Linked DNA regions of Homo sapiens. The protein of the gene in region 1 purifies or fractionates together with the protein of each later gene. This does not show direct contact. Each region holds a gene or a part of one and is shown in the gene's direction. Other genes may lie near its edges.

Evidence for each region.
Region 2: the proteins of PCDHA12 (region 1) and AGAP1 purify together in Homo sapiens (affinity purification with mass spectrometry; 2 studies listed by BioGRID and IntAct, with this or other methods). This does not show direct contact.
Region 3: the proteins of PCDHA12 (region 1) and FRMD5 purify together in Homo sapiens (affinity purification with mass spectrometry; 2 studies listed by BioGRID and IntAct, with this or other methods). This does not show direct contact.
Region 4: the proteins of PCDHA12 (region 1) and ZNF518A purify together in Homo sapiens (affinity purification with mass spectrometry; 2 studies listed by BioGRID and IntAct, with this or other methods). This does not show direct contact.

The regions. Positions count from the first base shown.
Region 1 is NC_000005.10:140,878,306-140,885,337, forward strand, and holds part of PCDHA12 (protocadherin alpha-12 isoform 1 precursor), read left to right. Parts: intron 1-3,818; exon of another isoform or gene 3,819-3,963; coding exon of another isoform or gene 3,964-6,387; exon of another isoform or gene 6,388-6,575; intron 6,576-7,032. Other genes in the region: PCDHA13 (protocadherin alpha-13 isoform 1 precursor), read left to right, coding at 3,964-6,357. UniProt on the Homo sapiens protein: Potential calcium-dependent cell-adhesion protein. May be involved in the establishment and maintenance of specific neuronal connections in the brain.
Region 2 is NC_000002.12:236,127,043-236,132,325, forward strand, and holds the end of AGAP1 (arf-GAP with GTPase, ANK repeat and PH domain-containing protein 1), read left to right. Parts: 3' UTR 1-4,751; downstream 4,752-5,283. UniProt on the Homo sapiens protein: GTPase-activating protein for ARF1 and, to a lesser extent, ARF5. Directly and specifically regulates the adapter protein 3 (AP-3)-dependent trafficking of proteins in the endosomal-lysosomal system.
Region 3 is NC_000015.10:43,919,256-43,926,287, reverse strand, and holds part of FRMD5 (FERM domain-containing protein 5), read left to right. Parts: intron 1-1,978; coding exon 1,979-2,083; intron 2,084-6,478; coding exon 6,479-6,521; intron 6,522-6,750; coding exon 6,751-6,829; intron 6,830-7,007; exon of another isoform or gene 7,008-7,032. UniProt on the Homo sapiens protein: May be involved in regulation of cell migration. May regulate cell-matrix interactions via its interaction with ITGB5 and modifying ITGB5 cytoplasmic tail interactions such as with FERMT2 and TLN1.
Region 4 is NC_000010.11:96,154,286-96,161,317, forward strand, and holds part of ZNF518A (zinc finger protein 518A), read left to right. Parts: intron 1-1,040; 5' UTR 1,041-1,091; exon of another isoform or gene 1,092-1,638; 5' UTR 1,639-1,762; intron 1,763-1,911; 5' UTR 1,912-2,037; coding exon 2,038-6,489; 3' UTR 6,490-7,032.

The DNA.
Region 1 (7,032 bases):
TCTAGACATTTTCACATTATATTCCAGGTATTATCACAATAATATAAATGATATGTCTGACATATGATGAATGATTTTCTTCATTGCTCACAAAATATCTTCTTTATTTCAAGTAGGAATAGATACTGTACTATTCTTATTTACATGAAATATAATAAAATCATTTCTCAATTTAAAAATATTTAACCATCTGTACGATACAGTACAGTTGGTAACCAACTGTGGCTCAAACCAGTTTCAGATGATCCCAAACTTATCATAGTATACCACTGCCCTGTGCCTATTACCAAGTGAATCTTCTAATGTGCATTTTACATATTTTAACTTTCTATTTCTACAAAAATATCCAGAGGCTTCTCTTTAACCAGGGAATAAAGTCTTACATACCCCAGCCTGGTAGTAAAGGCATTAAAATTTCCAGCCTTATATCTACTTTCTTACATATCTTTAGTTTAGGATCTGGAATATAGTATATGTTCAATCACTTTTTAAAAACATATGGGGGTCTTGCTATGTTGCACAGGCTGGACTAGAACTTCTGGGTTCAACTGATCCTCCATTTCAGCCTTTCAAGTAGCTGAGACTACAGGCAGGCTCCACCACTCCCAGCTTCAATCAATAATTTTAAATAAATATATGGTATTGAAATGTATTACCTGGACATTCCCCTCTATCTTAGAAATGAGAGTATGCCCTAGAAATCAGATAATGTTTTATTGAAGAGTGTCTTGAAAGATAGACAACATTTTACCAAGAAAGTGTTAAGAGAGATAAGTAGGAACAACTGCACAGTATATGGTGTAATTGAAGGATTAGAGCAGGGGAGATTGTGAAGGCAGGAAAGCTATTTCTTTTTTAATAAATTAGGTATCAAGTAATGGAGACTTAAATTATGGCAGTAGAAATGAATTGAAAAAGACATATACAAGAGGCACTGGCAAAGTAGAAGCAGCCAGATAATGACAGACTCAATACAAATGATAAGAGAAAAACAAAAGTAGAAGTTGACTCTCACTTTTTTAGTTTGTTCAGCTGAGAAGATGACATTGCCATTAACCAACCTGCAGAACAAGGTTGGAGAAACAGTTTGTGTGTATTTGAGCAGGTAGGGAATGGAGATGAACATTTAAGAAAATGTTACTTTGAAGTCCTAAGAGAATACCGTTGTGATTGGAAATATGGGTCTGGATCTCAGAAGAGATTATTGATATAGATTTTGGGAACAACTCCTTTAGAGAAAAAAATAATCCATGAAAGAATAAAATTGCCAAGACAGACATTGAAAAGTGAAAAACAATGTGTCCAGGTACTTAGGTGGGTAAGTGTGTCGCTTCCTGTGGCTGCTATAACAAACGAACACAAACTGGGTGCTGTAAAACAGCAAAAGTTTATTATTTCTCAGTATTGGAGACCAGAAGTCCAAAATCAAGGTGTTGTCAAGGCTATACTCTCTTTGGAGGCCCCAGGGAAGAATCTGGTTTTTGTTTCTTCCAGTTTCTATTGGCTGTTGGTGTTCCCTGGCTTGTGGCTGTACCACTCCCATCTCAGCCTTCTCAGCTTTCATGGTCACATTGCCTCCTCCTCTCCATGTCTCTCTCTATGTGTTGGTTTTACAAAGGTACATGTGATTGTATTTAGGGCCCATCTGGATAATCCAGGATAAACTCCTTTCAAGATCCTTAACTTAATCATATTATTCACCATATAAAGTAAAATCCACAAGTTCCAGGGATTAAGATGTGGGCATAACTTTTTGGGGACCACAATTCAACCTATTATAGTAGGCTTAAAATCATAGAAGGATAGACAACAGGAAGCTGAAATAAAGCTCAAAGTGCAATATATCAAGTATATGTTAGAAGTTAAACATGAAGGGAAAAAGATAAACAGAAGAGGTTTTCCACCAGAAGTAGAACATTTAAATTAGTGTATGTGCGTGTGTGTATGTATACATATTTTAGTTAAAGAAGTTTGACTATCTTCATAGTGTGAGTGAAAGAAACAAGTAAAAAATAAGATACTAAAAATAAGACAGGCAGCAGGTGAATTTAGATGAAAACCATGAGAGAATAGAAAATAATTTTTAAGAGCATATGGTTGACCTTAAAAGCGGGAACAGTTTTTCCTTACAACTAGTAGAAAATGAAAACAGATAATATAAGGAAAAATGACACAAGAAGAGAGCAATTGAATTTCTGTTTGGTCACATCTCTCAATGTGTGAATCATCTGAAAGTGAACTGATGGAAATGAGGTTGAGAATTTGAGAAGAGAGGAAAGAGAATATGGAAGAATCTCTGTAAGCAAGAGGGAGGAGTTAATTATCAATTCACTTGAGAGCCCAACTGAGGTAAAGGTGAGAGTAAATTTGAAGAGAATAGTCATGGTTAAGTGACAATGTTGAGCAGCTTAATAGGAAGCATAGAGAAAATGGATTGTCAGTGTAACTGCGTGTTGGAGGCTAAAAAGAATGTTAGAGGAGTAATATAAATAGGTGAATGACTCTAGAGTGTCTGGAAGGGCATATTTTAAATGGTTGACTATGTAGTCTAATTATGTGAAGAGGTAAATAAAGAAATGTAGGGCCAGATAGAAAGAATTAGAAGAGAAATACTATGTTAGTAAAAGTAATGGAGCAGGAGAGGATGATGAGGGTAAGAGAATACCAAATACTCTGCCTAAATTTTCAGAGGAGAGCAGAGCTATGGAAATAAACCCAACAGTCATTTCCTATAGAGTTGTGCACAGAACAGGCCAGATAATTATTGGAGCTATGATATATTTTTCATTACACCATTTGGCCTGGGATTTTGTGGCTTGGTAGAGATAGTTATAACAATAGATAAAAGTAAGATCCTCTTCCTCTTTTCCTTGCTAAAGATATGTTAACATCTTTGTCTAGCTGTTGTTTCTTGGAAAATTAAAGTCAATTTAAATGACGGCAAGGTTTTACTCAGTGATGATGAAGTAAGATGGAGAGAGAAAATGGAAACTTTAACCTCCTGGTTAAATTCTATTTAACCAGGACGCCGATTCGGGCTACAATGCGTGGCTTTCGTATGAATTGCAGCCGGCGGCGGTAAGTTAAATTCTATTAAATCAATAGGATATTAGTTCCAGGCATATTTTATAAAAACAGAATCCAAAACCTTAGAGCATTGTTGTGGCTAAATTATTGTGTTTATGCACATACACACACTCACATACAAAATCCCACACATATTGACTGAACACTTTCTTTTGAATATAAATATCTTATCTACATCTCAAGTCACATTGAGGGAAATTTATTAATATGATGTGCTTATTCAAAATCTGATATATCAGTTACCAATATTTTTCACCTTCACCGATTTTATTCTTATGTGATTGTTATGTTTCCTTTTGGAGTCAATGGCTGTTGTGTGAGGAGGTCTTGAAAAATATTACAGGAAGAGGACAGTACCACAAAAACCTACATGACTATGCAGAACTACCGATCAATTGTCCCAAAACGAGTGTCGAATATTCTTTGTCTTAAAGTTCTGCATGGAATTCTTACACATGGAAAAATAAATTTGTGGCAAAATGAAACTCATCAACCAATTGTCAGCTAATATAAAATGTTGAGCAGAATGCAGTGATTTGCTGTTTCTGGGAAGGTAAACATTTAATCTTCAATTACATATTTGCAGTGAAAATGTCAGGAAATGCAAGGGGCAAAAAAATACTACATCAATGGAAAATATGAAGACTGAGTCATACTTACACTTACACGTTCATGCGCATGGTGTCGCTCTTCACTGAGAACGTTTCCGCGAAGAAAGCCGCCGTTTCTTTCTTCCTGCAGAAAATATAGCAGAAAGCGGAATACCTCTTGCGAATCCTTCCGCACTAGGAAGCCATAAAAATTGGGCCTTGAGAGACAGTTTGAGGTAAGGCGTTGTATATATTGCAGATAGCTCTGAGGTTTTTGGAGTGTACCATGCTGTCTTCCTGGCAAGGAGGCCCAAGACCGCGGCAACTACTGCTCTGGCTTCTGATCCTCGCAGCCTGGGAGACGGGTAGTGGCCAGCTCCACTACTCCGTCCCCGAGGAAGCAAAACACGGCACCTTCGTGGGCCGCATCGCTCAGGACCTGGGGCTGGAGCTGGCGGAGCTGGTGCCGCGCCTGTTCCGGGTGGCGTCCAAAAGACACGGGGACCTTCTGGAGGTAAATCTGCAGAATGGCATTTTGTTTGTGAATTCTCGGATCGACCGCGAGGAGCTGTGTGGGCGGAGCGCGGAGTGCAGCATCCACCTGGAGGTGATCGTGGACAGGCCTCTGCAGGTTTTCCATGTGGAGGTGAAGGTGAGGGACATTAACGACAACCCGCCCATATTCCCTGAAAGCAAGAAACGAATAATCATTGCAGAATCTAGACCTCCGGAAACTCGATTTCCACTAGATGGCGCATCCGATGCAGATATTGGAGTAAACTCGGCATTGACCTACCGACTGGATCCCAACGATTATTTCACTTTGGACGCACAAAACAGTCTTGAGCAAATGTCTTCATTATCACTTGTACTGAGGAAAACACTGGACAGAGAGGAAATTCAGGAACATAGTTTATTACTGACAGCCAGTGATGGAGGTAAACCCGAGCTGACTGGCACAGTTCAGCTGCTCATCACGATTCTGGACGTGAATGACAACGCCCCGGAATTTTACCAATCCGTTTATAAAGTGACGGTGTTAGAGAACGCCTTCAATGGAACATTAGTGATCAAGCTAAATGCCACAGATCCTGATGATGGTACAAATGGAGATATAGTTTACTCATTTAGAAGGCCTGTATGGCCTGCAGTGGTATATGCATTTACCATAAATCCGAACAATGGAGAAATTAGGACAAAAGGCAAACTAGATTTCGAAGAAAAGAAATTATATGAAATATCCGTGGAGGCAGTTGACAAAGGAAATATTCCAATGGCGGGTCATTGTACCCTTTTGGTGGAAGTACTAGATGTAAATGATAACGCCCCAGAGGTTACCATCACTTCTTTGTCACTCCCCATCAGAGAAGACACTCAGCCTAGCGCCATTATTGCCCTAATCAGTGTGTCCGATCGTGACTCTGGCTCAAATGGACAGGTCACCTGCACCTTGACGCCGCATGTCCCCTTCAAGCTGGTGTCCACCTACAAGAACTACTACTCATTAGTGCTGGACAGCGCCCTGGACCGCGAGAGCGTATCAGCCTATGAACTGGTGGTGACCGCGCGGGACGGGGGCTCGCCTTCGCTGTGGGCCACGGCCAGCGTGTCGGTGGGGGTGGCCGACGTGAACGACAACGCGCCGGCGTTCGCGCAGCCCGAGTACACGGTGTTCGTGAAGGAAAACAATCCGCCGGGCTGCCACATCTTCACGGTGTCTGCTCAGGACGCGGACGCACAGGAGAACGCGCTGGTCTCCTACTCGCTGGTGGAGCGGCGGGTGGGCGAGCGTGCGCTGTCGAGCTACGTGTCGGTGCACGCGGAGAGCGGCAAGGTGTACGCGCTGCAGCCGTTGGACCACGAGGAGCTGGAGCTGTTGCAGTTCCAGGTGAGCGCGCGCGACTCTGGCGTGCCGCCTCTGGGCAGCAACGTGACGCTGCAGGTGTTCGTGCTGGACGAGAACGACAACGCTCCGGCGCTGCTGACGCCCGGGGCTGGCAGCGCGGGAGGCACAGTGAGCGAGCTGATGCCGCGGTCGGTGGGTGCAGGCCACGTGGTGGCGAAGGTGCGCGCGGTGGACGCCGATTCGGGCTACAATGCGTGGCTTTCGTATGAATTGCAGCTGGCGGCGGTCGGCGCGCGCATCCCGTTCCGCGTGGGGCTGTACACTGGCGAGATCAGCACGACGCGCCCTCTGGACGAGGTGGACGCGCCGCACCACCGCCTTCTGGTGCTGGTGAAGGACCACGGTGAGCCCGCGCTGACGGCCACGGCAACGGTGCTGTTGTCGCTGGTGGAGAGCGGCCAAGCGCCACAGGCTTCGTCGAGGGCGTCGGCAGGCGCTGTGGGTCCAGAAGCGGCGCTGGTGGATGTCAATGTTTACTTGATCATTGCCATCTGCGCGGTGTCCAGCCTGTTGGTGCTCACGTTGCTGCTGTATACTGCGCTGCGGTGCTCGGCACCGCCCACCGAGGGCGCGTGCGCGCCGGGCAAGCCCACTCTAGTGTGCTCCAGCGCGGCAGGGAGTTGGTCGTACTCGCAGCAGAGGCGGCCGAGGGTGTGCTCTGGGGAGGGCCCGCATAAGACGGACCTCATGGCCTTCAGTCCCAGCCTTCCTCCTTGTCTGGGTTCTGCAGAGGGAACAGGCCAGAGGGAGGAGGACTCAGAATGCTTGAAAGAGGTAAGCTTATATTTTAAAAAATTGTCTTAGTAAACACTTTAGCCTTCCTTGCAGTTGTTTGTTTAAGACATCTTTCCTGCCAATTTCAAATTATTCTTTACTTTAATTTTAATTTTGCTAGTTGTTATCGAATTTAACAACTCTGCTGTGGACATTATGTGTTGGATTATCCTTCAGAGTGAAATCTTAACTCACAAACCATAATGAAATGTGCAAAACAAGAATATTTTGTTTCTGTTGTATTCTTAATAGTTCTAAGTATTTATCTTGCAATTGAGCATTTACAAAAAATTCCTCACGTTGTGAGAACTTAAACATTTAGAAAATGTTTGTTTTAATGAGGCTAATCGTAATCTTAAATTTAAAAAATTTTTAGTTTAATGTATACATATACCCACAAGATATTATTTTAAAGAGCCCCATAACTTTTCACATAAATGCTTTTTTTAAGTGCACTTTTCTTTCTTTCTTTTTTTAAACTGTTTTGATTGTCTCTACTTTTTTGTCCTCTAGGCACATCAGTGTTCCCCTCTCATATATCCCATGAAAAATATCTTGTGATTCTGCTTTCAATTTTTTATTTGCATTCAGATAATTACTCATACATATATATATACATATATAGAGAGAGACCTGGTAGGCTTTTTGTTATTATTTCTTTTCCAAAGTTTGAAG
Region 2 (5,283 bases), on another chromosome or scaffold:
ATTAAAACTCTCCCTTGATGAGAAACAGCCAGCTGAGGGAGGCCCACGAGCGGCCTGTGTAACCCCATGGGTGATCTGGACACATCTGCACCCCCGCGTTCAGCTTCGCGGAGACTGAACTTGGCGGGGAGTGGAGGGGTGTGGTGCAGACCTGGCTGCAGCAGAAACACCCCGCAGGGACAGTACTCTGTGATTCTGACCTCAGGTGCTGGGACGGGCAGATGGTTTCCCCCGCCCAGCACCCCAGTCCTGGTCCCTGGTCCCTCTCTCTGTTTCATCCCAGGAAATGAGCAGCTCGAGGGTGAGCAAGTGACAAGTTCCTGAGTCACTGGCCCCAAAACCAGGTGCAGTGTCCTGTCTCCCAAGTGTGTGCACAATGTATATATGCACTGGAAAGGAGGGAGAAGGCAGCGGGTCACTCGCCAATCGCAGGGTTCTCAGACACAGGAGAGAGCGGGATCTTAATGAATTGCATTTCCTGCAGAGCCTCTAGTGCACAGGCCAGTTCTCGGCAGTGGCTTTTCAGCACAAGGGCCTTGCATTGAAGCTCCCTCTTCTGAGATTTCACCCAGCCTGATGAGGCCTGCATGGTTCCGGCCTCGTCATCCAGTGTAGATACCAGTCTTCCTATTTTTGTGACATCTGCACATTTGGGGTCATTCCCTATATCTGCATAGGAGCTATTGCTAACCTTGTTAGGGAGAAACATGGTCTAATGAGAAAGACAGACCCCTAGGCTCAGCTGGCCCTGCCATCCTTCCAGAGGATTCCTCTGCAACTCTAGGCAAGCACCCAGCTTCCTGGGCTCTTTTTCCTCATCTGTGAAACTTGCAGGGTGCAGTGAGGTTTCAAACCAGTGTGATAAGTGTTGGCCTCACACCTGGCCCAGGGGATGCTGGGAGAACAGGAGCACTTGTTAATAACAGAAACACTGATGGGACCGAAGCCAGTGCACACACCAGGAAACCTGCCCGTGGCTGACACTGTCCTCCAGCCTGCATTCTGGGGAGGCTGTGATGGGCACGTTTGCCAACCCCCCCCCCCCAGTAGAGCCCAGGACCCTCCTCTCTCAGCTTGCCAGTGCCCTGCCCTCCACATGGCGGGGAACAGCATCAATGAGGTCCTTGCTCCCTGAGAGCCTCTCTGGAACCTGCCCACTTTTCTCAACATGTATATTCTGCTTTGTAGTCTGAGGTTGATTTTCTAGAGGCGAGGAAGGGGCTGAGTTCTGCCCTCGTGCTGTTCGCTGGTGCTGATCAGGGCCAAGACGACCCTTCCCTCTCCCCCACAGCCTGTTGAGGTGCCGTTGACGTGGACAGCGCCCCTCCCTTAAGATGCCCCCTTGCCGTTGCCATGAGCCGCTGTGACTCACGCGTGCACTGGGCCTTGCTTGGTGCTCCCCTCCTCCTCCTGTCTGAGATCGGAGCTTGCTGGAGAGCACCCCAGGTCGCCGTGCTTGGCTGCAGGCCCGTCCCTCTCTCCCCATCCTCGGGTTCCCAGCGTGTTTTGTGCTTGAACTTGGTGGACTCATCTTACCCCACAAGAGTGGCCTGCTCAACCTGCAGCCTCCAATGTGCCGTAGGCGCTCTAGGTCCCCGTGGCGCCCAGGACACCAACTCTCCCTCCCTGCACTTAGGATGTTCTGGAAATGAGAGGAAATCCACATTCCTGCCCCAGGAGGTGGGAAGCCTGGCAACGATGTAGCTTCCCCTGAGATGCGGTATGATCAGGCCTCAGCAACTACTCAGGAGGCAAAGGTGTTTGGAAAGCAAACCCCAAACCTCCCGGCACGGCATGTGCTCTGCTTCCGTCCCTCACCGCCTGCACAAGGTCGTTGAGACTTTTCTAGAACTCCCCGGGGTTGTATTTATGGCCTTCAAGCAAACAAATTGAAAAGCAGTCAAGGAGGAGTTCAGATAGAAAAGTGCTGGAGATACACATCTTTCCTTCAAAGGAAATGTAATTTATTTCCAACCGCTGCCTCAGACGGGGGTTTCACATGTTGTGAAGTCACATCTTGAATGACTGTCACCCTCATCCTTCCCCAAAAAGCTAAATAAGGGCCTTTGGCATCAATGCGTGCATTCTCCACCTTTCCGCGGCTTGCGCTTGGATTTCTGAGTGGCTTTCTTCAGGGAGCCCTTGTGGTCATGTGTCTTTAATGCTGCTCCCCATGCCCCCAGGCCAGGCCAGCACGCTCAGGTGATAGCGAGTGGGGCCAGGAGACCCCCCTGCCCTGCCCAGTGGACAGATCTGCCCCAGCCCTGCTGTGGGGACGGGCCCTCTATCATTTAACCACATACATTAGGTTGCTTTTCAGCAAAATGTCAGCTTTCCTCCCATTATGCAGGAGAGAGAAGGGGCGCAGGTGTATCTCCTTAGAGTACACCTTGGAGCTGGATCACTAAGAAACAGTCCTCAGACTGGTCCTTCCGACACAGGCAGAGAGTGAACTGGATCGCTGGCCCCTGGGATGCTGCGCTGTCTGTGATTAGAGAGAAGTGGCCAGTGTCCCGTCTGTGATTAGACAGAAACCCCTGTGGCAGACTCCTCCCCTCTCCATGAAGAAAGAAATATTTACTTAGATATTACTGTTTCAAAACACAAACTTTATTCCCCTTAGAGAAGAAATACTGCCCTTAAATAGACTGTTGAAATATTAATGGCCCCCCCATTTAATCAGTGTGTCTGCGGCTTTCTTCGCGTCACATGTCCGCATTGGCAGGTGATTCTGGAAAGGGATTCTGGGAAACCAACAAGTCTTTTTTAAATCTTTGAGTTGTATGAGAAAGTATTTAAGTTCACCAGTGTAGTAAACACCCACCCCAGAGCAGCGGTAAGCAAACCTAAATCTGAAAACCCATTCTTACTGTCTTTCACCATGAGATGCTGGTTTTGGTGTAAAATGACAGCACTTGGTTTGGGGTTTTGCACCTGTTGGGTAGAACTGTTCTTGTCTGAGGTCCTCACCCTCTACAGATGGGCCTCAGGGCCTGGAGGTGGGCAGATGGGGCCAGAGTGGCCAGCAGAGACTTGCATGGGCTCTGAAAGCCCCAGAGCTCAGGCCTAAGGCTGCTAGGTGAGACCAGCAGGCAGCTGTGGCATCCGACCTTGGGACGCCCAAGCTGGGCAGCCGCTCCATGTGCCCCAAACAGGATATCCTCATGAATGTGAGGAGAGGCTGGCTCAGGGCTTGGTTTTCATTTTGGCCTGGCACAGGGTACCTGTAGGGAGCACTCCCCCAACCTGAGGATGGTGAAACCATATGATAGAGACTCCTTGTCGAAGTCCACATCGGACTGATCTAGAATGCCCCGTGGGGGGATTGCATGGCCTTTGCCTTGAGATGCAGGTGAAAGAAAGGAACCAAACAAGGCATGAGTGTGTTGGGGAATCTTCCCAGTGGAGCAAACCCCCTTAACACACCAGCTGTTGGGAACAGCTGCCCCTAAATCCAATTAAACCCTCATCTCCCTGGTGCTGAACAGTCTACACTGGCCCAGGAAGCTAACGTCTGAGCCGCTTGGAGAGCTTTGGTAAACAGAAGACACTGGAAGCCCACTCGGTCAGCAGCTGGGCATGAGGATGTCAGGGGCCTTTGGACTTGAGGAAGGACAGTCCAGGTGCATGGAATCCTAATGGGCCTCATGCAGACACTGGAAGCAGCCCAGCCCCCTGCCCAATACCACAGCCCTGGGGTGTCCCCTGACATTCCTGGAGGTCCCTGGGCAAATGCATTTCCTGCCTGGGTTCTCAGGGTAGGAGAACAGAGAAGGCTCCAAGGGTGTTGGGAGTGAGCCAGGGGCTGGTCTGGGGAGTGGGTCTCACGCACTGCTCAGGTTGGCACGAGGGACCTCCCCCATCCCAACCCAGCCCCAAGGGTCCCAGCAGGGCTCTCAGCATGGCTGTTTTGAGGGTACACAGGTGGCTGGAGAGGGGTGGGGCAGTTGCATGGTGGGTGGCAAAGTGTGCATTTAGAAGCTGCTTCGTGGCGTTAAGAACGGGGGGAGAGGGACCAGCACTGTAACGTTAGAAATAATTCCTTCTTGCAGACTTGAAAAGCATCAGTTTCCCTCCCACGGCTGGGTTTTTGTGTCTGAAATACATCTAATTCTCCAGACTGCAGCCCCTCTCAGCCCCGAGCACCTGAGCGCTGGGGAGGCCCTTATTGAGCTCAGCCTGGAGAGGGGAGGGTCGCACGGGTCCCGGGGGCAGGTCTCCTGCACTGGCTCTTCCCTTCTGCCAGCTTGGAATTTGGTTCTCATCTTGCCACAGGGGTGCGTTTCCTAAAGGGCAGCCGGAGCAGCTCAAAGGTGACAACTGAGATGCATTTCTAGGCAGGGGCAGGGAAGGCCAACCCACCTTGCAGCCAGTTTTCTGTTTCTGTAAATAGCAGTGTATAGAGATGGAAGGGCAGCGTGGGTGTATCCACAGATGGGTTTAGGTTTTTTTTTTGGATGTTTTCTATTACCTCATTCAGCAACTTTATGTTTCACAATGACTCAATGATGCTTTATTTATATTGTTTGTACTGTAATTAAAACCATTGACAGACATTTCACTTTGCTTGTTATTTCATATGATCTTGTTTTGATTAAATATGCCAGTTTGTATTTTCCTGCCTTGGGATTTTTTTGTGTCCGCTGTACAGTATTCTAAGGGAAAAAGAAAAAGAAAGATGTGTAAAGTAACAGAGAGAGGTGGCTATGGTGTAGAGACCTCTTTCTAATAAAGAAATGAAAATATGTCTACACCGCTTCCGTGGAGTTGTTGTTTTTTGTTTTTTGTTTTTTTTTTTTTTGGTGGCGTTGGTCATTTGTCACAACTAATTGTGTTTCTAAGCCCAGGAAAGGTAAATCAGAGAGAAAAGGGGCTCTGTCTGCTGCGGGCAGGGATTGCCCCAGGCCCAGGCTGCCCCAGGCCCGAGGGACTCAGCACACGAGTTCACAGACGGAATGAAGAAAGAGACCAGGAGTGTCTCTTCTGACTTCTTCCTTTACAAGGACAGAAACTCCAAGAGAATGTTCTTTGCCCAGCCAGGGTTGACTGGGCCCAGAACTTCCAGATGCTTCTGTATCTTTGCACTGTGCCACACTGCCCCAGGTGTGTCGTAAGAACTATTCCCAGCAGGTGGCTAGCAGTAGAACCATCCCAGGACTCTATTATTAAGACCGTTATTATCATTAATATTACTGTAATTTTTGCCTACAAACTACATTATATCTTCCCCTCCAAAAAAAAAAAATGAGAAAACTGACCAGGCCTGGTGGTTCACACCTGTAA
Region 3 (7,032 bases), on another chromosome or scaffold:
GGACAGGCCAGCGATGGATGCTGTGCAGGCTCCAGATGTTTTGACAGGTTCCTGCAAGTCATTCTCCTCCCACTTCACCCTTGGCATCCAGGCAGGTCTCTGAAGTAGAAGGTTATGGGTTATAAACGGCCTAGCTTTTCACCATTTTGTGAAATCTTTTAGCAAACCTTTTCCCTTCTATTCATTCAGTAATTTATTCAACAAATAATTATTGAGGACCTGCCTGCCATGCATCAGGCCCTGTGCTAAGTTCTGGGGGAAGGATTCTGACCTCATGAAAATTACAGTCTAGAAAGGAAGCAGATAGTAAATAGATAACTAAACAAATCAACAAGATAATTACAGATTGGTATAAGTGCTATGAAGGACATAAATGGCAAAATGAGATGGAAAGTAACTGGGAAGGGCTGTACTATAGGGAAAGGCCTCTCTGAAGAGGGGACATTTGAGCTGAGTCCTCAAAAAATAGGAGTGGCTGCAGAGAGCTGCAGGAAGAACATTCCCGGCAGAGGGAATGCAAAGACAGTGGCAGAAAAGCCTTGGGGAGTTCAGAACGGAAAGGCCATGGCTGAAGTGTAGTGAGGAAAATGATTTTGGGTGAGTGCAGAGAGAAGCCAGGCTGTATAGGGCCTGGGACGCCATGATCAGAGTTTTCATTTTATTCTGAGAGCAACAAGAATTAAGAGAAGTGAGTAACATAAAGATCATTGTATGTTCACTGCCACATTGTTTGTAATAGCAAATTAGAAACAAATGTCATCAATATGGAACTGGGTAAATAATTTTAGATTCATTGCAGTGACATGCAGCAGTTAAAAACTGTGAGGCATATCTATATATATTGCCATAGAAGGATTTGCAGGATACCCTAAGTGGGAGAAAAGAGCTTAAAAATATGTTACAAAATGTATTTTTAAAAGAGGAGATGTATATGTATGTAGGTTTGCCTGTGTATAAAACATCACATAAAGGATATACAAGAGGGCTGGGCATGGTGGCTCACACCTTTAATCCTAGCACTTTGGGAGGCCGAGGCAGGCAGATCACCTAAGGTCAGAAGTTAGAGACCAGCCTGACCAACATGGTGAAACCCCGTGTCTACTAAAAATACAAAAATTAGCTGGACGTGGTGGCACATGCCTGTAATCCCAGCTACTTGGGAGGCTGAGACAGGAGAATCGTGTGAACCCAGGTGGTGGAGGTTGCAGTGAGCCAAGACTGCGCTATTGCACTCCAGCCTGGGAGACAGAACGAGACTCCATCTCAAAAAAAAAAAAAAAAAAAGGATATACAAGAAGCTGATAACAGTTGCTTCTAGGGAGAGGAACTGGGGCACAGGGTGGCCAGGGTGGAAGGGAGACTTACTGTTCATAGTATATCCTTTTGTTTGTTTAAATATCCTACAATGTGCCTGATCACTTATTCAGCAAGAAAGAGATGATGTCTAAATTGTGGACACCCTCATTGCTGTGCGGAGAATGGACTGAAAGGGCAAGAGCAAAGGCAGAAGATCAGTTAGAAGGCTCTGGCAGTGGTCCTGTTGAGGGATGGTGGTGGCTTGACCTATGGTGTTGGTAACAGAGAGGAAGAGAAGTGAATGGATTCAAGATTTACTTTAGAGGCTCAGTCAGCTGGGCCTGGTGTAATTATTGCTGTATTCCACACTGACATTCCCTACACCCACAGTTTAAGAAAGCTCTCTGTGCATTTGAGATGGGAACTGGGCTTACCTGACTCTACCCTGACTTCTCTGACATCTTTGTGGTGGGAAGGGTTCTTGGGCTCCTTCCAGGTGCTAAAAGCCTCTGGATTCCAGACAGTGAGTGATGTATCACAATGTGGAGGACATAGTTATGGACATTCACCCCTTTCATAGACACATGCAACAGTTACAAACAACTTTTAATGGCTATAAAAAAAAAAAAAGTTACACTGAAGAAACCCACTCATTTCTCAATGGAGTTTTCTTTCTTTGCAGAGAGATGCCAAAGGCCAGTACCTGTTTGACCTTCTTTGCCACCATCTGAACCTACTTGAGAAAGACTATTTTGGTATCCGCTTTGTAGACCCAGATAAGCAGCGGGTAAGTCAATATTCAAAGCACAAAAGGAGGACAGGGCTAGTCAATAAGACTGAGGTCTTGAACTGTCATTCATATTCAAAGTCAAGCTTCAGGAATCAGGGACCAACCAGACCCTGCAGTTGGATGTCGTCTCTTCAGATCATAGCATTAGACCTGGAAGGCACCTTGGCTAGAGCTCACCTGGAGAAGCTTGTCATTTTACAGTTGCTGAAATGGCAGGCTAGGGAGCTTAAATGATTTGCACAAAGTTGGAGGCAGAGCAGCTGGGCTGGAGTTGTGGTCTCGGAGCCCAAGTCACAGGGTGAGCCTCTCCTGCCCACTTTCTAGTAAGCAGGCTGAAGCACATTGTACTGGTTAGGAAAGGCCTCACCAAAGGTGCCATACCAACCCAATCTAGGCAGTACAGACAGAGCCAAACCAGCGCGGGCCTTTCAGCACCTTGCAGATCTTGCAGTTCTTGCTCTGCTCTACACAGCATAGGCAGCTCTGCAGACACAGGGCATTCTGATAGCCAAGGGTGCTGATATTCCAGACAGATTCAGGAACAAGTCCATCATCTCAGGCCCCTGCCTATTTCTCCAGCTTCATCTCCCCAACCTGCTGTGGTCCCGCCAGACAGTAATACTTTTGCCCTCCAGATACATCATACCTTCTTTCTTTACAGAGCCTTCACCTATAGAGTTCCCCTGCCTAGAATCTTCTCCTTTTCCTTACCGCTCCACACTCCACACCCTTCTTCCAGCTAACTCCTTTTCACACTTAAGGTCTCAGCTTAGACTTTTACTTCCTCTGGGAAATCTCCCCTAACCCCACTCTGTATTAGGGATCCTCCTATGGGCCCCCATGTGCCCTCTGCTACCCTGTTATAGCACTTATTACATCATTCTGTGATTACCTGTGTTCCCTGCAAAAATGTAAGTTCCATGAGGGCCTGGACTTTGTCTCATTCATCACTATCTCCCATTTAACTAGCACAGGCCTACAATGTAGTTGGTGTTCAATAAATATTTTCTGAAGAAATGAATGCATGAGTGAGTTAATGGCTTATAGTGTTGTATTTCTTACGTCCATTTGCCCAGCCTCCCAGCTTGCAGACACCTGCAGTTTCTATAACTTCCCTTCATCTACCCTTTGCTCTTTGTGGAGATGTACTCTCTGGCATCCCCACCAAAGTAGAGAGGTAATGATGGTGTTTCTTTGTTTGGTCCAAACTTTTATCCTTAAAAAGGAAGGCTGGCTGTGTGCACTGGCTCATGCCTGTAATCCCAGCACTTTGGGAGGCTAAGGCAGGCGGATTGTTTCAGCCCAGGAGTTCATGACCAGCCTGGGCAACATGGCAAAACCCCGTCTCCACTAAAAATACAAAAATTCGCGGAAATGGTGGCATGTGCCTGTAGTCCCAGCTACTTGGGAGGCTGAGACATGAGAATCACTCGAACCCGGGAGGTGGAGGTTGCAGTGAGCCAAGATCACACCACTGCACTCCAGCCTGGGAGACAGAGCAAGACTCTTGTCTTTAAAAAAAAAAAAAAAAAAGGAGGGCCAGTTACTCCAAGATCTCTTCATCCCCTAGAGTGGTGGTATATGAAGAAAAAAAGGCGAATTGTATCCTGTTCATTGGTTTTTTAGTTAGGTCAGAATGTGCTTGAGGAGAGTAAGAGAATATGTGGATGTGGTGAAGGTTAAAATGAGAAGGAACTAGAGAGAGATAAGAACATGGGAAAGAGGAGAAGTAAACATTTATGGAGTTCCTACTGCTTGCCAGGCTCTGCGCTGCACACAAACCTAATTCTTCCAGCTGATGTATACTGCTCACTGAGTCGTGCCAGGCACTAAGCTAAGAGCTTCACGTATGTTATTCCATCTCATCCTTAACAAAATGAGATGAGTATCCCTAATGATAATATCTGTTATCCAGATGAGTAAATAAAGTCTCAGACAAGTTAAGTAACTTGCCCCAGGTCAGTGGCAAAGCCAGCCTCGAGCTCAGACCTGTTTGACTCCAGGGCCAGTGTGGTTTCTGAGATTCCATGCTGAATGTATAACTGATAGCCTCTGAAAGTTGTGTAATTCTGTGCCTTGCGGGAGGGGTTAAGGAGAGCAGAGAGGCTTGAGACAGTAACTGAGGGTTGTAGGGAAATGGGGACCTGTAGAGAGTTGTCCTTAGTCCACTGATTCATGGTAGGGATGGAGGAGCTGAGCTCCCCTGCTCCCTCAGGGTGTAAGGGCCTAAAATAAACCTCTTTCCCTGGGTCTCAAGACAGTCTGAACCCAGCACTTACATCCATCCGATGTCAGTCCTTGCTCTGCAGGAGCCTCCATGCATCTGCAAGCTCTCCTGGTCTCTCCTGGAGGAGCTGCCCTTACTTTCCTTCCCCAGGATGCCTGACTCGGGCCCAGGGCCTCCACCTTCTCTTGGCCTCTGCTTTGTACCCTTTCAAGCCCCTAGAGTCTGAAGATTGTGCCACATTGGCCCATTCACTCAGATAGGGGAGGAAACCCTCCTCTCTGAATCTTCTTTTCCTCTTCTTTTAATCCCTCCTCCCTAAGCCCATGTTGTCTGTTTGCTAGTGAATCTGGGACCGATTTGGTCAGGCATTTGCAAAAAGCCACTCTGGCCATCACCATATTCTTGGGTTCCTCTCAAGATTTCTCTGCCAGACTCCAAATCCCATGGATCAGCTGTGACAGCTCTTCAGTCCCTTCTCACCCCTTGCTACTATCCTCCAGCCTCAGTCCTTTCTTGAGCTCTCACTACAATAAAACTAAAATCTTCTTTCTAGCTATTGTCAAGGGGAATAGGCTTTTGTCATTCAGCTTTATCTGCCCTCTGCTGATAATGCATCTCACAGTCATTAATTTCTACCTTCCTTTGTTTATTTCTTTTAATCTATCAGTCTAATGTCTGGGGGTGTTGCTGTTCTGTGTACTGAATCCCTGGCACTGGCTATGTTCTCCTCACTGTCCACAATTCCAGTGTGCTCTGAACAGATAGGCCTCCTCCGTCTTCACAGGCATACCCTGGAACCCCAGTTGTTTCTGAGCAATTTCATCTCTTGCCTTTGCCTCCCTGTGAAGCTGAGCCGCGGTGGGCCGTGTAATGTGAGAAGGGCCTCTTAACCACATTGAGTGGCTATAATGAGTTGCCAGCCTCGTGGGAACTCAGATCAGCAGAAGCAGGAGAGCAGAATGTCAGTCCAGATTATCCATGTGGAGCTGACAGAAGAACTGGCTCTTAGTGGGTCCATTAACTGCATGACCCATGGCCCAGCCCAGAAGGTGATCACTGGGAATCAAGGGAGGCCAGGATGCTGACTGCAGCGCCCTGGCTGCTCTCCTGCCAGAGGGAGGACTCTGCCAAGACATTACACTAAATTGAAGTAGCCAGAAAAGAAGGAAGTATGGGCCCAGTCCCTTTGCCATTCAGCAGCTACCTATTGAACACTGTGCTAGGCACTGGTGATACAGTGGTAAACGAGACTGACAGTTCTGGGCCTTCATGGAGCTTACATCTGGCAATGTTAAGCTACCTCTGGATAATCAAACTCCAATTAATAGCAGTCCTACCTAATCTTGATTAGCAAAAAGCAACAAACATCAATAATAAAATTTATAAAGGACCCATGTAGAATTAAGGAACACATATAGAATGGTTTCATTGCTTCCCCCAGACGTTAAGTACCATGGGAAAATGTATTCTGCCTCTATGTCCTGCCTCCTTGAAAAATCCAAGGGGAAGAAGGTACTATCCTACACGTTGGTTGTGGTTAGTTATCATTTGAGATTTAGATTTTAAAACATCACTGGATGCCAAGGAATCCTGAGTATGTGTTTTCTAACACAAGGGTTGGCAATTTATGTTACTCAAAGAAAGATGGAATATATACCAGCCATCCCTGACTTAGGAAATTTCCACTTCTCACTACTTTCTAGAGTTGCTACCAAAATCTTCTATTCCCACTCCCCTGCCAAAAAAAGAAGAAAAAAAAAGCTGGTGCATAACAGAAACACACACCACCCATTAAAGTCAGTATTTCCCGACTCAACCCAGGTGGGGCTCTGTCCCCGCCACACATACATGCAGTCGCTTGTGCCTTAATCGCATGCCAAAAACATGGCTCAGAATTTTGGCACCCTGCTTTAGAAGACAGCATTTCCAGGGAAGCCCATAAATGGCATCTGAAGCTGGAACTATTCCCCCCTTCACAGCTGGCTCCATGGGAGCTCATTTCAGAAAATCATATCACTCTTTACTCACCAAACTTATCTTTCATAAGCTTTTGGGCTGCTTTCACCCTAGGCTACAATCTGTCTAGTTTTTTAAGTTGGAGAAAACAAGTTATATTTTACAGCCCTTCTCATTAGGGTTTTCATGTTCTGTGTTCTCTGTTTCAGCATTGGCTGGAATTTACAAAGTCTGTGGTGAAACAATTGAGATGTAAGTATTCTCCATGAAAAGACTCAAGCCACACCCCTGGGGAGGGTGGGACGAAACCTCCCACTTATCTCAAGTTTTGATCTACATATATAATTTCCCACTGTTCTGAGTATAAGTTGGCCCTAAATATATGAGGGTTCTCTTCTGCTGCTTCATGCTAGTGGGCAGAAGAGCCCTGTCCTCTTCTGGGTGAGAGTCTTCCCTGATGAGCACCTCTTTTTCTCTGCAGCCCAGCCTCCATTCACCATGTGCTTCCGTGTGAAGTTTTATCCTGCAGACCCTGCTGCTCTGAAAGAAGAAATAACCAGGTGAGGTGAACATGCTTCCCGCAGCCATTAGGACCTGTTGGAGAGCATAGGAAAGGGGGATGGTGACCTCTTAGAGCCTCTCATTTGGAAGCGCCTAACTCTTAGAGGCAAGGAACTCTTCCTAAATATAATGACTTCTGTATTTCATTTCCACATGCTTTCTTCGCGTACCCCTCAGTGCAGTCGCAACAGAGTGGACTTCT
Region 4 (7,032 bases), on another chromosome or scaffold:
GATGGTGCCACTGCACTGCAGCCTGAGCGACAGAGTGAGACCCTGTCATCAATCTTTTCTTTCTTTCTCTTTCTCTGTTTCTTTCTTCCTTTCTTCCTTTCCTTCCTTCTTTCGTTTCTTTCTCCTCCCTCCCTCCCTCCTTCTTTTCTTTTTTTTCCTTCCTTCCTGCCTTCTTTTCTTTTTTTTCTTTTCTTTTCTCTTAACAAAGCAGTGAGTTAAAACCTGACTGTTGGATTGTAGAGCCTTCAATTAGTGTCTAGTTCATTCTCCTAGAAAGACAAGTGCTCTGCTTGGCTAGTCATTCTGAAATCATCTGTAAGCCCCATCTTAGTTTAAGAATAGCCATCAGATAATTCTTCTCAGCCTTTTCTCCTGGTTTCCTGACAGTTCCAGTTACTTTTTCAGCTTTTCTTCTTTTAGGGCCCTAAAAACCCTTCATGAGGCCTTCATCTTGTGTTACCTTTTCTTTGTAATACTAAAGTTTTATGACAAACATCCCATTCTGGATTCACATTTTACTGTATTAGTCATGGCATGTAAAACAATTCAATAATTGGTACCCTTCTGATTAATTTATTATAGATCTCTTAATATGTAATTCAACTTTTAATGATTCCCTCAGTAAAGGATTTCTAAAACAGTAAAGTTTGTAGGTATTTAGATTAATTGAAGTTTAAAGCTGAGACCTTTGGATAGACATTATGGATGAGGAGCTTAATGTGATTTATACTATGTTTTGTTTAGCTTATCTGATTTTGTCTATTCATACATATATATATATATAAAGCACAAAATTAAAAACATGTAATTTTTCTAATAATACAGTTTGATATATTAATGACTGAACCTTCAGTATTCAGATTCCTGTCTCAACAATATATTGTTATGTCCCATACGTGGTAATCACATAGAGTAATAGTGGTAGCTGTGATTTATATGGCACTTTAAAGGATATTTTTACATATATTTTCTCATTTTATCTTCACAACAACCTTGTGAAAGACATAGGGGAAGTACTAATTTTTCCCCCCATTTTACAGATGAAGGAACTGAGACACAGAGGTTGAGACTTGTCTAAAGTAACATGACCAGTAAGTGCTTGAATTAATGCAGGTAGGTAGTGATGGGTATGTTCTAATCTGCCAAGGGCTTTTCCTTGCTGTCATCTGGCTTGAGTTCTGAGGATATAAATTCATATAGCCAAAATGGTAGGGAACCAGAAAGGTAATGAGTAGATGGACTTTAGGACTACACTAGGGAAATGGTGCTGCTGTTCTTTTTAATTTCTTCCTTTTTGTTCTTTTTGTTTGGTTTCTAACTTGTTAGTAATGATAAGCAGATACCGTCTTTGGTTGTTTCCGTTAGATGAATGAAGCTTTTGTTTTAATTGTAGATTATCCCTGAGGAACTAAGGAAATAGAAAATCTGGAGAGAAGTCTGTTGGGATTCTCACAGGGAATAGCTATTAGATCAACTAAGCAAATGAAAAAGTTAATAGTATATGGATAAACCACATGTGTGTAATTGGAACTTCTTAGGATTCTAAGATTTTTAAAATCTTGTTTAAAAACTGTATTATCACCTTAATATAAAAATCTTAGCGCTTGAGCGTACTTACCCAACTGTGGTTTTCTTTAGATGAGGAAACTGAGGTCCAGAGAAGTTGAAGTTTTCCCAAGGTCACACAGCAGAGCTGGAACTAGAGCTTGCATTTCCTGACTTCCAGATTAGTGTTATTTTTACTTCAAACTATTACTTCTTGGTAAGCTGTTCTTAAAATACTTAAAAAGTCTTTTGTATATTTAATTTATGTTTTTGATTAACATTCCTACTTTGTGCCAAAATGAACTTACAGATACGAATTTACTATTATTTTTGTGATGAGAATTTCAATTCTTTGTTTAATTTTAGGTGAGTTATTGTGGGAAAAATCCTGTATATTGAAGATGTCTCTACACAGTATCGTTTCCTGTTTAAATTACAGATAACTTCAAGAGTTTTCAGAAAAAAAGAAATTGGGACTTTTTTGGTTAAATCATGCCATCTGAACAGAAACAGTTATTTTGTGATGAAAAACAAACTACTTTAAAAAAAGATTATGATGTGAAAAATGAGATAGTTGATAGGTCGGCACCTAAACCAAAAATTTCAGGAAGTATTCATTATGCACTAAAAAATGTGAAAATTGATTTGCCAAAAATAAATATTCCAAATGAAGTCCTATTGAAACATGAAGTTGACAAATACAGAAAATTATTTCAGAGTAAACAGCAGACTGCAAGAAAATCTATCAGTATAAAGACTGTAAGCTGTGTAGAGGAGTGTACATTGCTTCATAAGTCTGAGAGAGCTGAAGAAGAGGGTGTAAAAATGTCTGCAAAAATACTCAATTTCAGCTGTTTAAAATGCCGAGACAACACTCGATATAGCCCAAATGATTTGCAGAAACACTTTCAAATGTGGCACCATGGCGAATTACCTTCATATCCTTGTGAAATGTGCAACTTTTCAGCAAATGACTTTCAGGTATTTAAACAACACAGACGAACCCATAGAAGCACTTTAGTAAAATGTGACATTTGTAACAATGAGAGTGTATATACTTTACTGAACTTGACAAAGCATTTCACATCCACACATTGTGTTAATGGTAATTTTCAATGTGAAAAGTGTAAGTTCTCCACCCAGGATGTTGGCACATTTGTTCAGCACATTCATAGACATAATGAAATTCATTATAAGTGTGGTAAATGTCATCATGTATGTTTTACCAAAGGAGAGCTTCAGAAGCACCTTCATATTCATTCTGGTACTTTTCCCTTCACTTGTCAATATTGTAGCTATGGTGCCACCAGGAGAGAACACCTTGTAAGACATGTTATAACTTTGCACAAAGAACATTTATATGCAAAAGAAAAACTGGAAAAAGACAAATATGAAAAAAGAATGGCAAAGACTTCTGCAGGACTTAAGCTAATACTGAAAAGATATAAAATAGGTGCATCAAGGAAGACGTTCTGGAAACGTAAGAAAATTAACAGTGGAAGTGACAGAAGTATAGAAAAGAACACTCAAGTGCTTAAGAAAATGAACAAAACACAGACTAAATCTGAAGACCAGAGCCATGTTGTTCAAGAGCATTTAAGTGAAGAAAAGGATGAAAGACTACACTGTGAGAATAATGATAAAGCCCCTGAATCAGAGTCAGAGAAGCCAACTCCTCTGTCCACTGGGCAAGGTAATAGAGCTGAAGAGGGACCAAACGCTAGTTCAGGTTTCATGAAGACTGCTGTACTAGGACCTACACTGAAAAATGTAATGATGAAAAATAATAAACTAGCAGTTTCCCCTAACTATAATGCTACGTTTATGGGCTTCAAGATGATGGATGGAAAACAGCATATTGTATTAAAATTGGTGCCTATCAAACAAAATGTATGTTCACCAGGCTCACAGTCAGGTGCTGCAAAGGACGGTACTGCTAATTTGCAGCCCCAGACTTTGGACACTAATGGATTTTTAACAGGAGTAACAACTGAGTTAAATGACACAGTTTATATGAAAGCAGCTACTCCATTTTCATGTTCATCTTCTATACTTTCAGGGAAAGCAAGTTCAGAAAAAGAAATGACTTTGATATCTCAAAGGAATAATATGCTTCAAACAATGGATTATGAGAAAAGTGTATCTTCTTTGTCAGCAACATCAGAATTGGTTACAGCATCAGTGAATTTGACCACAAAATTTGAAACAAGAGATAATGTTGACTTCTGGGGAAATCATCTCACTCAGAGTCACCCCGAGGTATTAGGTACCACCATTAAAAGTCCAGATAAAGTCAACTGTGTTGCCAAACCAAATGCATACAACAGTGGAGATATGCATAATTATTGCATTAATTATGGCAACTGTGAGTTACCTGTTGAATCCTCCAACCAAGGATCATTACCTTTTCATAATTACTCAAAAGTGAATAATTCTAATAAACGTCGTAGGTTTTCAGGAACAGCAGTGTATGAAAACCCTCAAAGAGAATCTTCATCCAGCAAAACAGTTGTCCAACAACCAATTAGTGAATCATTTTTATCACTAGTGAGGCAGGAGAGCTCAAAACCAGATAGCCTATTAGCATCTATTAGCCTTTTAAATGATAAAGATGGAACTTTAAAAGCAAAATCTGAAATTGAAGAACAGTATGTTTTAGAAAAAGGACAAAACATTGATGGACAAAACCTGTACAGTAATGAAAATCAAAATTTAGAGTGTGCGACTGAAAAATCTAAATGGGAAGACTTTTCTAATGTCGATTCACCTATGATGCCTAGAATCACATCTGTTTTCTCTCTCCAGAGCCAACAGGCATCAGAATTTCTGCCACCTGAAGTAAACCAATTGCTTCAGGATGTATTGAAAATAAAACCTGATGTAAAACAAGACTCTAGTAACACTCCAAATAAAGGCTTGCCACTTCATTGTGACCAGTCATTTCAAAAACACGAGAGAGAAGGCAAAATTGTTGAATCTTCGAAAGATTTCAAAGTGCAAGGCATCTTCCCAGTTCCACCTGGCAGTGTGGGTATTAATGTGCCTACAAATGATTTGAATTTGAAATTTGGAAAAGAAAAACAAGTGTCATCAATACCACAAGATGTGAGAGATTCAGAGAAGATGCCTAGAATTTCAGGTTTTGGCACATTACTTAAGACTCAGTCAGATGCGATAATAACACAGCAGCTTGTAAAAGACAAACTACGAGCCACCACACAAAATTTAGGTTCTTTTTATATGCAGAGTCCACTTTTAAATTCAGAACAAAAAAAAACTATAATTGTTCAGACTTCAAAAGGATTCTTAATACCATTGAACATTACTAACAAGCCTGGGCTACCAGTTATTCCTGGAAATGCACTTCCATTGGTTAATTCACAAGGTATCCCTGCTTCTCTTTTTGTAAACAAGAAACCTGGGATGGTTTTAACACTTAATAATGGGAAACTTGAAGGTGTTTCCGCTGTCAAAACCGAGGGTGCCCCAGCTCGTGGAACTGTGACTAAGGAGCCTTGCAAAACACCTATTTTGAAGGTAGAACCAAACAATAATTGTCTTACACCTGGACTTTGTTCCAGCATTGGCAGTTGTTTGAGCATGAAAAGTAGCTCAGAAAATACTTTGCCATTAAAAGGCCCTTACATTTTGAAACCAACGAGTTCTGTGAAAGCTGTTCTTATTCCTAACATGCTATCTGAGCAACAGAGCACTAAGTTGAATATCTCCGATTCAGTAAAACAGCAGAATGAGATTTTTCCAAAACCACCTCTTTATACCTTCTTGCCTGATGGCAAACAAGCTGTTTTTTTAAAGTGTGTGATGCCAAATAAAACTGAGCTGCTTAAGCCCAAATTAGTCCAAAATAGTACTTATCAAAATATACAGCCAAAGAAACCTGAAGGAACACCACAAAGAATATTGCTGAAAATTTTTAACCCTGTTTTAAATGTGACTGCTGCTAATAATCTGTCAGTAAGCAACTCTGCATCCTCATTGCAAAAAGACAACGTACCATCTAATCAGATTATAGGAGGAGAGCAGAAAGAGCCAGAATCTAGAGATGCCTTACCCTTCTTACTAGATGACTTAATGCCAGCAAATGAAATTGTGATAACTTCTACTGCAACATGCCCAGAATCTTCTGAGGAACCAATATGTGTCAGTGACTGTTCAGAGTCCAGGGTATTAAGGTGTAAAACAAATTGTAGAATTGAGAGGAACTTCAATAGAAAAAAGACTTCCAAAAAAATTTTTTCAAAAACAAAAACTCATGGAAGTAAAGACTCTGAAACTGCCTTTGTATCTAGAAACAGAAACTGTAAACGAAAGTGTAGGGATAGTTACCAAGAACCTCCAAGAAGAAAAGCAACATTGCATAGAAAGTGTAAAGAAAAGGCAAAACCTGAAGATGTCCGTGAAACATTTGGATTTAGCAGACCTAGGCTTTCAAAAGATTCCATCAGAACTTTGCGGCTTTTCCCTTTTAGTTCTAAACAGCTTGTGAAATGTCCTAGGAGAAACCAACCAGTTGTAGTTTTGAATCATCCTGACGCAGATGCACCAGAAGTAGTAAGTGTAATGAAAACTATTGCTAAATTTAATGGACATGTACTTAAGGTTTCATTGTCAAAAAGAACTATAAATGCTTTACTGAAACCAGTTTGTTATAACCCTCCTAAAACAACTTATGATGATTTTTCCAAGAGGCACAAAACATTTAAACCTGTTAGTTCTGTGAAAGAAAGATTTGTGCTAAAATTAACACTCAAAAAGACAAGCAAAAACAATTACCAGATTGTGAAGACTACCTCTGAAAATATTTTGAAGGCTAAATTTAACTGTTGGTTTTGTGGTAGAGTATTTGACAATCAGGATACTTGGGCTGGTCATGGGCAGAGACATTTAATGGAAGCTACTCGGGATTGGAACATGTTAGAATAGTTTACCATAATTACCAAGGAAAAGAAAAGTAAAATTACCTTAGAAGAAAACAACGGGTTCAGTTACCATAATGCAGACATTTTCTACTTCAGTATAGTACCTGAAATCGAACATTTTAAAAGTTGATTGTATTTCTGTGGAAGAGTAAAAGTTGTATGTATGATATTTGAAAATGCTATCCCTGCACTCAAAAGTTTTGAAAGAAACTAATCACAGCACAGAAGTACCTTGATTTAATTTTTTAAACGTGTTCTCGGGAAGTTAGGGCTAAAGAAAATTTTGATAAAACAATTTTCCCACTTTAGTTCTTTAGTGACTCTTAGTAGAGGGTAATGGCTGACACCCCCATTCCCTCTCTTCTTCCACCAGCCTTATGCATCTAAGTGTAGCTCCTCTGGAGATGGAGAGCTCTTTCATCGTAGAACTGAAGGAGTTTCTCACATTTGTGAAGATACTTTGAGAGAACCTGGGTAAAGAAGTCACTCTATATCTGCTAAATATAGTTATTTTGAAGGATATTAGGCTCCTTGAAAGTACATTTAA